Regions from separate parts of the Homo sapiens genome. Here region 1 is linked to region 2. Evidence: fine-mapped expression QTL. Tissue or cell type: whole blood. Region 2 holds a variant in brackets; the other region holds the start of a gene. All regions are shown on one strand. Distances are between the middles of the regions.

Region 1 (2,500 bases), 80 kb after region 2:
AGAATATAAGCCCTTGTCAGCTGATACCACCTCTTCTGTTTTTATTTTGTTTTGTTTTTATGTTTCTTCCTGCGGCCTAGTTCTATGCTGGATGCATTATCCTTTGAAATAAAACCTTGCTGTTTGGTTGATTGTCATTTGCAGTGCCTGAAAAAACCTTCAGGAAAGCCAAGAAATCCAATAGCAAAGGAAGCTTAGCAGGAAACCCTGCTTCTCCCAGGCATAACCACCCTCTCAGCACTTAACCTCTCCCCAGCAACCCTGGGCACATCTCCATCCTCAGATAGTTCAGAAGGCAACATAAAAACTAATTTATACCACAGTTTTTAAATATTTGTGTTCCCCTCCCTCAGAAATATTTGACTCTGATTTTTAATATAGAAGAAATAAATTTAACAAAAAATCAGTCTCTAGTGGTAGAACCTCTGGAATCTGTGAAAAAGACATTTTCAATTCACAGAGAACTTATAATGTTTTCCTGGAAAGTTCCTGAAAGGCAACAGAAAAGAAGCTGGAGCAGGAATGAGCTTCTAAAAGCAAACTGGCAATGCCTCCTGCCCAGCCCTTCTTCTTCTCCTGCTCCTTCTTGTGCTGGCCAGTCAGGCTCCTCCAACCCCGGAAGTCTGCAAAGTCCTTCATCTGCCACCAAAAACAGAACCCCACCTCATTCTCAGAGATTGTCCTTTCTTAAATAAGAGTACACAGGACTCTAAAAGTTGCAATTTCTTTCTCTCAAGCAGCTGTGGCATGCTCTTGGAGTCTTCCCTACACAAGCACCCAAGTCTCCAACCAAGCTTAGCCTTGTTTTTCCTCCCTGCTGCTCTGCTGGGTTTCAGGCCTTACCTGAGGCGAGGGGAGCCTGCCTCAGCCCCTGGGCCCAGATCAGGAGGAGACACCAGCGCATGCTTCTGCCCAGAGGGCCTACAGGAAGCAGATGTGGCCTCTTCTGCCACTGAAAGTAGCCGACTGCAGATAGGACGGTAAAACTGAGCCTCTGAGAAAAGACGGTCTCGGAAAAACCAAGTTTGGCAAAAACCATATTAAAAACACATAAAGTTGTCAACAAATACACAAACTGCATAGGGTGAGCCACAAGAAAGGCCATGAAGGAAACATTTAAAAATAAATGAAAATTGTGGTTAGAGGTACACTCGTCTTTGGATTATAGTCAATCTATTGTTTTTAAGTTCTGTCTTAATGTTTTTTCTAAAAATCAGCCTTTATTCAAAGAGCTCAAGGGCATCTGTGTAGTGCCCAAGATTCTGAAGAATCTGCTACTGATGAGGAACTGTTGGCTGAGCTCCTCTGGCATCCTCCTGATGAAGAATGTGCAATGATAAGAGAAGCTTATCATTGTAGGGACTTACAGGCCAGGGACTGCACTTGAAATCTAATGAACAGGTGAACAAGAAGTGTTTACTTGGGGGATGATACATGGATGGGACAAAGGTCTTGGACAAACACAGCAACTTTCCCTTGAAGGAGATCTTCTACTCGAATCTTATTTCTTTTGTCTTGTTTATCTGGACTGAGACTTTATTGAATTCTGGCTTGATTTCTCTGGTGCAGTAGGATCAGAGGAGATTAGAGGAGAGAGCTTTCCTGTGCACAATGACCTCATGAGAGCTGGAAATGCAAAGAAGGGTGAGCCCCTGGGAGCTGACCCAGGAGAGGGATTGGTTGACATTTGCCTGGAGCTCCCAGCCCATCACCAGGTCCTACTATGGACCCATCCTTCTTTCCTCCCTCCCTCCCTTCATTCATTTGAAAGTCCCTGGGTGCCTACAAAGCACCAACCTCAACACCAGGCTCTGAGGATATGAGAGTAAATAATCACAGCCCCTACCCTCAAATAGTTTACAAAGCTTGTTCCTTGGTGAACTCAGTCAGGAGAGGGGGTAGAAGATCCACATTCACCTGCCTCGCAGGCTCTCAACACAGTTGCCTTGGGGATGCTCCATGTTGTACATCCTGAAAATCTGCATCTGCACCCAGAAGCATCTGAAGCCTGGTGCCCCACCCCCTCCATTCCAGCCATGCACCTCTAGCATTTCACACCATCCAGGCTCCTACCCTCCTTCTCCCTTGCAAGGTCTTCTATCTCAGGCCAGTTTTCTCCCCTCTCTGGGTTCTGCCTATCCCCAACTCTATGACTTGTATACCCCTTATACCCCACCTCCAGACCCTTAGACAATATACGCCTTACCAGCTTCTCTCTGCCTACCCAAAGCAACCTGTCCTTCAAGGCTCACATCAAGAGATGCCTTGCCTTTCAATAGCTACAAAGCCTTCAGCTGAAGGAGAAATAATACCTAATGTGTGTCCAAGGGAAGGTGCCAAGGTTGAACTGGAGGGATGTTTCCCAAACTCACTAAGGCCGGGGAGCCAGGAGTGGCAGGGCCAAGAGCAGCTAGTGGGACTAGAGCACAGAAAGTGGTGGACACTAGGATTTGGGCTATAAAAATTTACAGCCTGTGTTTCCATAGTTGAGCTGGGTGGG
Region 2 (2,759 bases):
CCAAAAACTTCCTGAGGCACCTGTTCACATGAAAAGATTGGATTTCTGTTGGAGGTGCTCAGAAGGCAGTGTTTATAACTGAAGATCTCTGTTTGGTGTGCCAAAAAATGAAAAACATTTTGGCCCCAGAAAACCTCCATAAATGTTCAAAATGTATAATCAAACAAAAGCTTCATTTGGATTCAAATGCATGTATCTCAGCAGATGTGTCTAAACTAACTGGAATCCCACAGGAGCAGCTGAACTGGATTTTGGTATGTCTTGATAACTGAAAGAGTTATTCTTAGACTTTGGAAGGACAAAAATGGTCCATCTGTGAAGAACCGTAATAGAGACATGGCAAAAAACAGCATCCTCTGAAAGAGTTTATTTATGGAATTTAGGACAAGTTGGACAATCCTGAAAACATTTTAGGGTCACACTAATTTGCAGAGAAAATATAGCCAAAATGGAATGGAATAACAACCACAGACAGTTACTATCCAATGGCTTGTTATTAATTTTCTAATAAATTCCGTATCAGTTAAGCAGTAATAGAGTGTCTTTGGTACAACTAAGTGCTCTCGTTGCCCCCAGTGTTCTGCATTCTGCTTTATTCTATGTTCTGTAAGGAATTATATATTTATCTTTTCATTTAAACTGTTTTTCTGTCATTTCATTGCCAAGTAAGCCCCTCATCTGTTAAATGTGGATTTCCTGTCATTAAAGATAGTCTTTCCCGTTTTAAAAAGTCACCTTTCTGCCTCTTAGTTAATTGATATATAATCTCTTTGGAATTTTTTCGTTACCTTTTATACCCTTTATTTAGAGATTTTAGTGCTTAGTCCAGCACTTATACATTGGAAGGCCAGTTCGTTTTTTTTATTTGCTCTAATTTCCTAGAGTTTCCACTTTGTGCATTTGGGGACACACTTATTTTAAAAAAGCACAGGTCTTGAAACTTTGTATCTTAATCTACCTCTATTTTTTAAATTGGCCCTCTTTTTATAAAACTTATTATTTCCCTACAACACCAATTTAACTGGGTTTCTTCCATAGTCACTTAATGCAGTAATTTCTGGTAGTCGTTCTTATTCATTCATTCATTTAGTCATTAATTCAGTCATTGATCAAATGTTATCAGATCCCTCATTCTGCACCAAGTCCTCAGCTAAGATTAGGGACGAAGATAGGAATAAGACCCCATCCCCACACTTTGGAACATAACGGGGTAAATATAAATGCAGAATTAAAGTGTTCCAGTATGCACAAAATGCTACAGAGCCCCCGAGGAAAGAGCCTCTTGAAGTGGAAAGAGCTCCACACCAAAAATGAAATTAAACTGGATCATAAAGGAGTGGGCATTTGTAAAGTAGAAGGCAGAAGTAATGGCATTCCAGGCAGAA[G/A]GAATAGAAAGAAGCAAAACCATAGAGGCACAAACAGAGCGCAGAGTTTTCAGAAAACAGAACAGTTCAGTTATGACACTGAGGCCTTCTTATACTTTGCCTCATTTTAATCATGGGAAGATTTGTATTTGGGTAACATTGTCTATTGTTATAATTCAGCTGAGCTGAATCCTATATCCATTTCAGAGACATTTGCTTTCCAAATATATAATAAAGCAAGACATCTACTTATTTTCTAATAGGCAAAAGAACCCTTCCTTCCACACAGCCAGTCAAAGTAAGAAAGTATTCTGAGGGGGCAAGGCGCAGTGGCTCACGCCTGTAATCCCCGCACTTTGGGAGACCAAGGCGGCCAGATCATGAGGTCAAGAGATCGAGACCATCCTGGCCAAATGGTGAAACCCTGTCTCTACTAAAAATAGAAAAATTAGCTGGGCATGGTGGCACGTGCCTCTAGTCCCAGCTACTTGGGAGGCTGAGGTAGGAGAATCGCTTGAACCCAGGAGGCGGAGGTTGCAGTGAGCCGAGATTGCACCACTGCACTCTAGCCTAGTGACAGAGCAAGACTGCATCTCAGGAAAAAAAAAGAAAGTATTCTGAAGGACCTAGTGATGATTTTGATCAGTAAATCACAAAATAAATTTTCTTTTTATTTTTCTTTTTTGTTTAAACAGGGTCTGGCTCTGTTGCCCAGGCTGGAGTACAGCAGTGCAATCTCAGCTCACTGCCACCTCTGCCTCCTGGGCTCAAGCAATCCTCCCACCCAGCCTCCTGAGTAGCTGGGAACATAGACTTGTGCCACCACAGCCAGCTAGTTTTTTGGGGGGTTTTTTGTTTGTTTGTATTTTAGAGGTGAGATTTGATCATGTTGCCCAGGCTGGTCTCGAATCCTGAGCTCAAGCAATCCGTCTGCCTCGGCCTCCCAAAGTGCTGGGATTACAGGCATGAGCCACCACACCTGGCTCAGAATAACTAATTGTTGAGAAAAGTTCATTCATGGAGCCAGAGTCACCTACAGGTGTCATGCTGGAACTTTGTCATGGATTTGTGGCCCTTCCCGACTCTAACAGTCTGTCCTCTTATAAAATCCTCCCAGGTCCCTTGGCAAGTCTGGTCTCAATGCCCATTGGCTCAAGTTACACTGTGTCATATTGCTCTCCCAAACAGTGCATAGATATGATTATCCACATGTAATTGTTAGGGCCCAATGCTGATTTTCACGGTTCTGTTCTTCATCTTGCCATCTCATCCCATGCAGGAATACATCTTTAATTCTTATCTACAGCTGCTAGTGACAGTTTCATGTGTGCTTCCTCTGTTCATGGCAGATTTCATTATATAAAATTAGTGCTTCTCCATATCTGTCAAGACTTC

What was found. PIP is the estimated chance that this variant, and not a neighbour inherited with it, causes the effect.
Region 1: it holds the start of TIGIT, and the variant in region 2 is fine-mapped to the expression of TIGIT in whole blood (TOPMed, PIP above 0.99).

Annotation. Positions count from the first base shown.
Region 1 is chr3:114,292,466-114,294,965 of GRCh38, reverse strand. TIGIT (T cell immunoreceptor with Ig and ITIM domains) reads right to left here and starts at 938. Exons shown (of 4, transcript NM_173799.4): 1 at 844-938. The coding sequence starts at 904.
Region 2 is chr3:114,372,137-114,374,895 of GRCh38, reverse strand. All of the region lies in intron 10 of ZBTB20 (zinc finger and BTB domain containing 20), which reads left to right. The region is part of intron 6 of ZBTB20-AS1 (ZBTB20 antisense RNA 1); the gene reads right to left. Among named protein-coding and RNA genes, the nearest start is that of ZBTB20-AS1, 22 kb to the right of the region's middle. The variant G/A (reference allele first, on the strand shown) is at 1,386.